Homo sapiens: one gene and its partner. The protein of the gene in region 1 interacts with the protein of each later gene in a pairwise test. Each region holds a gene or a part of one and is shown on either strand. Other genes may lie near its edges.

Evidence for each region.
Region 2: the proteins of KAT6A (region 1) and RERE interact in a two-hybrid assay, tested with the Homo sapiens proteins (one large-scale study listed by BioGRID and IntAct).

The regions. Positions count from the first base shown.
Region 1 is NC_000008.11:41,933,485-41,938,716, forward strand, and holds part of KAT6A (histone acetyltransferase KAT6A), read right to left. Parts: intron 4,085-5,232; coding exon 3,772-4,084; intron 1,384-3,771; coding exon 1-1,383. UniProt on the Homo sapiens protein: Histone acetyltransferase that acetylates lysine residues in histone H3 and histone H4 (in vitro). Component of the MOZ/MORF complex which has a histone H3 acetyltransferase activity. May act as a transcriptional coactivator for RUNX1 and RUNX2.
Region 2 is NC_000001.11:8,806,775-8,811,140, reverse strand, and holds part of RERE (arginine-glutamic acid dipeptide repeats protein), read left to right. Parts: intron 1-4,366. UniProt on the Homo sapiens protein: Plays a role as a transcriptional repressor during development. May play a role in the control of cell survival. Overexpression of RERE recruits BAX to the nucleus particularly to POD and triggers caspase-3 activation, leading to cell death.

The sequences.
Region 1 (5,232 bases):
CACAGATGCTGCCGCCCATCGTGGAGTCGTAACTGCTTGGGTTCTCATAGTTTTCAGTGGTGCTCTCAATGCTGCCCAGGTCACTGAAGCCGCTGTCCACCACCTGCTGAGAGTGGTCTGATACGGAAGGCACATCCATCATGGGGCTGGTCTCCATGTTCTGCATAGAGGGTGCGGACAGGGATCCTTGTTCTGGGCTGATCTGGGTGTAGCCACTCTCAAGGGCAGGCACGTTGGGACTGCTGACCGAACGGACTGACTGGCTGGGGTGAGACTGAACGGAGGAGATAGGGCTATTATGTTCTGACGCATGACAGTCTTCAACCATGGACATCTGAGGGTCCTCGTCAGCCTGGGTGTAACTCTGCAGGGTCTGACACGCCGCAAGAGTTTCCTCACAGTCCTGGTAGGCGCCCTCATGCTCACTGCTTTCTTCTTGAGTCAAAGACTGCACTGCCTGTACAGTTTCCAGATCCAGCTCACTATGAGGAATCTCTTCCTCCTCTTTTAATTCGATTAACTCTTCCTTAGTGTGGGAGTCTTCTTCGTGGTCGTCCTCAGACCCAGCCATCTGCTCTGACACCACGGACGTGTCATGGGAAGGCTGCTCCTCTTCGGAATCCAGCTCGGTTTCCTCTTTATCCTTTATCTTTTCCCTACTCTTCTGCATATTAGCATCTAAAAAAGACTCTTGAACACCAGGCTCCTCCTTGACATCTTCCCTCGTGGGCTGTTCCTCTAGCTCCTTTTTCTTTGTGGACTCCAGGTGGCCATCATCCTCATCATCAGCGTCGTGGTCGTCATTCTGGGCAGTCTCTGCAGCTGCATCTTCCTCCTCCTCTGGCTCTGGCTCCTCTAATTCCTGCTGCTCCTCCTCTGACTGCCTCTGCTCCTCTGAGACACGGGGCTTCTCTTCTTCCTCCTCCACCTCAGGCTCCTTGGTTTCGGTCTCAGGACTATTGCTGCTGTCTGCTGGAGAGGCTGCTGGGACTTCACTGCTGGCTGCATCCTCTTCCTCACCCTCTTCAGCCTCTTCTGCCTCTGCTTGCATCTCCTCCTCCTCCTTCCTCTCCTCGGGTAGGGGCATGTCTTCTTTTGGCTCAACAGTTTCTTCACTCTCCTGGATCTTGGGTTTACGTCCAGCTTTAGGAATGGAAACGATGGGCTCAATGACGCATGCTTGAGTAGAAACTGGCATGATTTCCCGACTCAACTTAAATCCTGGTTTTCGACCAGGTCTTTTCTTCCAGTGGATTGGTTTGCGGCTCTTGCCTTTGGGCCATCCCTTTTTCTTTTTCAAAGGTGTGGATGTATCTGGCTCAAGAGGAGAATTCTTCACATCACGTTTTCGCAAAAGAGATACTGGCTTTAAGATAGGAGTGTCTATACAGGAAGGAAAAAAAACAAAGACAGGTTACAAGGTCTTACATTTTCTAGTTCCTTCTTCCAAGACTAGCATATACAATAGAAATGACTTTATTAATCATTACTTTTATAAACTCCTGATTGTCTTCATTTTAAAGTTAAGAACCTAGAGGATAAAACTAATTAGTGACATATTCTAAGTCACACAGTGAATTGGCAGAACTATGAAAGAATCCTGGTCAACATTATGTTATCAGACACTAGTCAGAACCAATTCAAGACTACCATCATCAGCTGCATGTCTGTGGGAAGTTACTCTACATTTCAGTTTCATCATCTGTAAAATGGAGATGAACTTTATAAAGAGGCAAATAAGTAGTAAGCAGTACTTTTATCAAGTTGTCTCTACTAAAAGTTACAAATTAGCTTATTTCCTCTTTTTTTTTCTGCTTGTGATTTACTTTATCTCTCGGATTTTCTTACTTTCCACAAATCATCACTTCAGGTAGTATGATGAGCCAATTACTCTAGGCCATGACTGAGCCATCGTATGTGAACAGTTGTTCAATTAATGTTGTGTTTGTATGGGAATAGCTGCAAAGCATTTATTTAGTCCTAGACAAAAACTGACATTTAGACTTAGACAAACAAGAAAAAATTAAAGCACCAATTACATTCATTAGAAATAAATTTTATATTATTAGCATTTTAAAAAAACTATGGTAAACTATACGTAACATAAAACTTAAAATTTTAACCATTTATAAGTGTTAAGTTCAGTGGCATTAAGTACACTCACATTGCCTATTAATTTTTAAAGAATAAGAATACCAAGACAAGAACATGATGCAGTGGGGGCACGGCTAAAAAGGCACAGTTAGTAGTAGTAACTTGAAAGTCAACAAAGGAAATGGCTGCATCAGCAAAAATCTAAGTCCATGGGAACTTAATCAGGGGTACTATTTTAGTGTACAATGATCTAAGACAGAATATAAAGTGCTAAATTTACAAAATAAATTTTTAGTTTCCTAGTTATGTTATTTCAAAACATAGCAAGTTAAACTCTGTAGAATCATTCATGATAGAGCAAAGAACACATTCATCTTATCACTATATTAAAAGTATTTGTTGGCCAGGCAGGGTGGCTCACACCTGTAATCCCAGCACTTTGGGAGTCCAAGGCGGGTGGATCACTTGAGGTCAGGAGTTTGAGACCAGCCTGGCCAACATGGTGAAACCCCGTCTCTACTAAAAATACAAAAATTAGCCAGGCATGGTGGCGTGCACCTATAATCCCAACTACTTGGGATGCTGAGGCACGAGAATCGCTTGAACCCGGAGGTGGAGGTTGCAGTGAGCTGAGACTGTGCCACTGCACTCCCACCTGGGTGACAGAGGGAGACTCCATCTCAAAAAAATAAAAAATAAAAAATAAAAAAGTATTTGTTATATAGAAAATATGAGAATGGAGAAAATGTAAGTTTATCTTCTAGACTTGAAACTGACTGAATTTTTAAAAGAATTAAAAAGTTCAACCAGTTAATGCATAAAAGCTAAAGGTTTATGTACCAAGACTGGACAAGTAGATTTCTTCAAATTTGCCCAACAAAGTAAAAATGCTCATTCTGAGCCCATGCGAGATAAACACACTGCAGATGCAGGCAGCATGAGACACTGGCAAAACTTTAGGCTAGGGTGAAAAAGACTTGTTTCTGACCTGGCTCATATATATGAGACCTAGTTTCAGTGTCTCTAGAGAAGAAATGACAACTAGGCTGCTTTAAAAGTAAATAGTTGGATTTGTATCTATACTATAAAATTTATTTTGAGTTATTGTTACCATTTGTGAGAAATTTACTACTAGTTGGGTAAGACACATTAGAGATACAATTCAGGAAAGACTCCTGAACAGATGTGACACAAGTTCCAATTTACATGAATCTGCTCTTTCTGGAGAATTGTCTTCTTAGCATTCACTCATTTAACACTACTTACTGAGCGCCGGGCTTAAGCACTCAGCATACAGCAATGAGCAAAACAGACTAAGTCTAGAGAATGCACATTCTAGTGAAGGGTTATTACATCTTCCTGATGCTAAGTCCAACTCTCCCATTAACTAAAGATTCTGATAAAGGCTTAGAAAGGATTGGGCAAAAAAGAACAGTTGCCTAATAGTAAGATATTTTCTGCAGAGGCAAATTAATAGAGGTTCTGAGTTGAAGGGAAAACACATTTAAAAATCAAGATGGATATACTTGATACAACTTTTTAGAGATTGCCAAACGTTCCTTTTCTTGCTTAGTGGGTTGTGTTCATTTTTCAGCCTTTTTACTGAAGGGTCTGTCACTGCTACTGCTATATATCTGAAGACAATAAACCACAGTAAGTGAGTTCTGTAAAACATACCATCAGCATCATCTGACTCTTCATCTTCTTCTTCATCTTTAGACTTCCTCTTAGAAGAGGACTGACACCTGAGTACATCCTGCGAAGACAAACGACGGAAGTATTCTCTAGGGAAAAGTTCATTTTCATCCTCTTCCTCCTCTTCTTCATCGATCTCAAACGTGGGTTCTAATCTTGGCATTGGCCTCTCGGAGTCAGAATCTTCAAAAGGTTCATCTAACACTTCAGTGGTCTCAGAAATAGTTTCTGTGACTACACTGCTATTGTGGTGTTTGCGCTTTCGGACTCTCCTCCTTCGGTGGAGAAATGGTTTCTGTTTAATAGAGAAAGCAAGTATTTACAGTTATGAACACTATCTTTTCTATTAATAATACGAAAACAGTTTTAAAACCAAATAGAATTAGCACATATAAAATGAGGATGTTGTTTGCCAAAAAATATTTTGAATATTATTTCAAAATACTATAGTAAGATAATACACTTATTATAAATACAAAGGTATTAGGCAATTGAACACAACTTTGTAAAAGAATAGGCAGCCATCTCCAAATAGCAGACATTATAATTCTCTTAATAGTTCAGTTAAATTTAGCACCCTAGAGAGTTGCCCTGTTTTAATACTGAACTGACCCAGAGGCTAATCCCTTAACTTTTCCAACTTAAGAGCAAAAGAGAAATAAAAACACTTTGTCTTATAGCACTACTGTGAAGGTTTGCAGAACTATCAGTAAAGTTGTATGCCATTTTCATGAACTACTCATAAAAAGCTGTGGAATGTAGAAATATGGGGCTGAAATGTATTTACTCAGTGTTAGTGAAATATTTCAAAAGTAAAATAAATCTGTTACTGAAATTTGGGCACACTGAGCACAACTTTGCACTGGACTGACCAAATAGCTAAAATTATACAACTAATATCACAAAATAAGAGATGATGCCCCAGAGATTATCTAATCCAATCCCTTCATTCTATAGATGTCAGAGAGGGTATAGGACTTGCTTAAGTTCACACATCCAGTCAAAGCATTTATTCATTAACTTCAAAATTACTTTGCATGTGAGCTTACTGCCTGTTCTTTTTCTTTTTTTAACATGATTTGTTTTACTTCATAAATTGGCAATACAAGTGCTAGGATGACAAAGATCTATTCTTCATGATCATGCAATGAACAGCAGTTAGTCAATGTTCAATTTTTCTCTACTTCAAACTTAATAGTCCCAATCGAGAATGTAATTTTCAAATTAGATTAAAAATGGCCCTGGTCCTTGGAGAAAAGGCTGATTCTAGGACAAGGGCATGAAATATACAAGATGAACTTGAAGCATCTTGTAGTGCCAGAAAGGAAATGCTTAAAAACAAACAAAAAGACCCCACAATGACAACAACAGTATATATGTTAAACACAGGAGGCCAGGCGCGGTGGCTCACACCTGTAATCCCAGCACCTTGGAGGCCAAGGC
Region 2 (4,366 bases), on another chromosome or scaffold:
CTGGCTATGCTGGGGAAGTATATCCACACAAGTGGATTCTAGGCGTGAGCCACTGCGCCTGGCGGCTATTGTTGATTTTGATAGCTTATTCTAACACCTTATTTTCCTTCAAGAGACTTCATAGTCATAACTCGTAGTCAGTTATGATCCTTTTTTTAGGTGGTATCACTTTATTACATTTGTCTTATTCTCCTTTTATTTTCTGTGACTCTGCCCGCCTACTGACTACCTGTCTACCTACCTGCCTACCCAAGTCAGTGTTTCCCGAACTGTATTTATGGCTTCCTAATATGCTGCAAGTATTTTAAGTGTGGGGTGAAATACGTTTATAATGCACATGAGCTCTTTAAAGCCTCAGAAACATTTTATACTATAGAGGGTTTTTGTTTTTCATTTTCCTCCCTTACCCCAAAGAATACCTGTTTCTTTCTCATGAGATACTCATGGGATAGATACTACTATTCTAGTTTAATAGAACACAGTTTGAGATGCACCTGTAAAATTAATTTTTTTTAATTTAAATTTAAATTTTTTGAGGAAAGGTCTTGCTCTGTCATCCAGGTTGGAGTGCAGTGGCGCAATCTCTGCTCACTGCAGCCTTGACCCCCTCGGGCTCAAATGATCCTCCTGCCTCAGCCACCTGAGTAGCTGGGACCATAGGCATGCACCATCACACCTAGCTAATTTTTGTATTTTTTATAGAGACAGAGTTTTGCCATGTTGCCCAGGCTGGTCTTGAACTTCTCAGCTGAAGTGATCTACCCACCTTGGTATCCCAAAGTGTTGGGATTACAGGCATGAGCCACTATGTCTGGATTTATTTTATTTAAAAATAACTTTAGGCCAGGCGCGGTGGCTCATGCCTGTAATCCCAGCACTTTGGGAGGCCAAGGCGGATGGGTGACCTGAGGTCAGGAATTCAAGACCAGCCTGGCAAACATGGTGAAACTTTGTCTCTACAAAAATACATTTGCTGGGCACGATGGCGGGTACCTGTAATCCCAGTACTCGGAAGGCTGAGGTGGAAGAATCGCTTGAACCCGGGAGGCGGAGGTTGCAGTGAGCTGAGATCGCTCCACTGCACTCCAGCCTGGGCGACAGAGCAAGACTCTGTCTCAAACAACAACAACAACAACAACAACAACAAAAACAAAAACAACAAACTGTGCTCAGGACACAGTGCCTGAAGTTTTTTTGGTTTGGCCACTTTTATTTCCTACCACTTAAATACCTTTTCTTCAGTTCTTGTTATAACCTTCTCACTCATTTGATCACTTCATGTCTTGTATTAATGTTTATTACTTCCATTTATATTTTAGAGATAATTATGTTCTCTTTATTAGATTATACATCTCTTGAAGGCAGAAAGTTTTCCTGTGACTACAGCAGTATGTGTGTTCACACTTAAAATTAGATGTATTCTGAAAAACATTTTATTGACTCCAAGATGCCATCATTTGTAAAATGAATTATTATTTTGTATACTGCTAAGAATGAAAAAAATGCCAGTTAACCTCTGTGAGACCTTTCCTAATTCCAGTGGCATACTATACAAATGTAAAACAAACATTATGAGTCTTAGAGTCATTGAAATATGGTCCATCTATTTAGGCTGACTTTCGTTTCACAACTGTCTGTTCCCTGGAAAGCATGTCTGAAGAAAGATTTTAAAGCAGATTATTGTCTCTTGTAGTAACATTATTATAGGTTGCATTCCTGCCTAAGGACTTAGCATGAAAAATCTTAGCTACAGCCAACAGAGATGCTACCATAAACCTATAGTAATTATAGTTAAATTATGTTCTACTTCCTATGGAGTAGGGATAATCATTATGTATTTTGGTTTGTAATATATGTTGTATATCTATAATATACACAAATACTACCTTACTGTATTATCATTTTGACCTAAAATGTGCTGAGTTTATGTTAAATATTGATGTTCCTCATGATTCTATCCATTAACCTCTCCCTCAGTACTTTTTTTTTTTTTTTTTTTTTTTAAGACAAAGTCTCGCTCTGTCGCCCAGGCTGGAGTGCAGTGGTGTGATCTCAGTTCACTGCAAGCTCTGCCTCCCGGGTTCACACCATTTTCCTGCCTCAGCCTCCTGAGTAGCTGGGACTACAGGCGCCTGCCACCATGCCTGACTAATTTTTTGTATTTTTTAGTGGAGACAGGGTTTCACCATGTTAGCCAGGATGGTCTCAATCTCCTGACTTCGTGATCCGCCTGCCTTGGCCTCCCAAAGTGCTGGGATTACAGGCGTGAGTCACTGCACCCAGCCCTCCCTCAATACTTTGTTTAAACACCAATTTGGTCCAGCCTCAAATTTTGAAAATCTCTCTCTGGAGATGCAGATCTGTGTTGTCTTTTGCCTCCTTGAATATCTTTTTGGCCCTAAGTTTCAGAACTTACCAAGCTGTAGTATTTGTCTACCGTTAACTAACTATTATGCTATTGCAGAAAAGTTGTTAAGAGCTCTAGACTCAATCTGCAGCCCACTGCTTATTAACTCTGTGACTTCGGGCAGGTTATTTACCTTTCTGGGTCTCAGTTTCCTCATCTGTAAAATTGAGATAATAATAATACTCGTGGGTTTGTTGTGAGGACCAAAGTAATTAATTCATATAAAGTATTTAAAAAGGTCCCTGGCACATAGTAAATGGTCAATAAATATCAGCCTCTTTTTATTATTACTGTTATTGTCATCTAGAGATCTAGCTTTCCAGTATGTTCTCTTTGTTGTTTATAATAATCAGGAGATCTGCAGGAGACAATGGGTGAACTCTAGATGGTTTGAATAGATTCTCTTTGAGGTACCAATTCTAAAATGTTTGCTATTCCTTGAATATAGGAAATGCTAAAAACAATATGTGATTAAATACCAAGTGAATAGAGTAATAGTACAGTTTGAAGTTTGGGGTGTTAATAAATGATCAGAATATCATGGCTTAGCTTCCTGAAGGAGGTTTTTTTTTTTTTTTTTTTTTTTGAGACAAGGTCTTGCTCTGTTGCCCAGGTTCTAGAGTGCAGTGGTGCATGATCACGGCTCATTGCAGCCTCGATCTTGAGGGTCCAAGTGATTCTCCCACCTCGGCCTCCCAAAGTGCTGTTACTACAGGTATGACCCACCACGCCTGGCCTCTGAAGGAGATTTATATAAGTAGAACAATGGCAAGTAGGAAATTAGAAGTATTACTTTATTATTAATTTGGGCTTTTGGCCAAAATACCAATGTAAATTTGTGTAGTAAACAGGGTGACATCATATTACTTAAGCTCCAGGACTAGTCAAGGGCTCTCTCATCCTCCTAAATTTCACTGTCTTACTACTCTTTGGTTGATGGCTTTGCAGAAGACCCCAACAATTAGTCTTTTAGAGTGTGTAAGAGTGAAATGACCAAGAACAAGAACACAAACTCTTACATGTATGTGACTTTTTTTTCTATCTTGCACTTGAATCAAGATTTGTGTAACTTTTAATCTTCATTGATCTTCATAGTTGTACACAGGGTTCAATCAGTACTGTGGACTCTTGACCCAATCCGATTAGTGTTCCATCCTCTTAGAGAGATTCAAGAAGAAAGGCAATTGAGGGAAAGAGCAAGACCTCTTGTTGGTCTGGCTTCAAATCTCTAATGAGGTTGATGTAATGGCCTGTGAGGAGTAACTAAAAATATTTGGCTATCTGCCTAAGCAGCCCTACATTCTGACATTTTTCAGTATAGTCCCTGGGACTGGGTGGGGGGCGGCGGAACTGCAAAGTATTTTTCAAATTTAAGGATAAAGCTGGATGTGGTGGCTCACAACTGTAATCCTAGTGCTTTGGGAGGTCGAGGCAGGAGGCTCCCTTGAGACCAGGAGTTTGAGACCAGCCTGGGCAACGTAACAAGACCCCCGTCTCTGCAAAAAAAATTAAAAATTAGCCAGGCGTGGTAGCACGTGCCTGTAGCCCAAGCTACTCAGAAGGCTGAGGCGGGAGGATTGTTTGAGCCTAGGAGGTCAAGGCTGCAGTGAGCCAATATTGTGCCATTGCTTTCCAGCCTGGGAGACAGAGTGAGACCCTGTCTCAACAACAACAAAATGTAAGGATAAGAGAACCCCATAAGGTACAGTTAGGGAAAGATATCTTGTGATAAATAAGATTTGCCATGTGGAAAACTGACCCACCATCAGTGATAACTGCTATGGCATTTTGGTAAGATGCTGATGCTAATTTTGGTAACAGGAGTGTCATCTTTGAGGAATATGATTATGTGTGATTATATTAGCAGAGCAAAGCTGAAGTCTAGTCACATTGTACTCTCATATTGTAGCCTGAAGCAAGAATATGATGACAGCAGGGGAGTGATGAACTTGGAGGCTA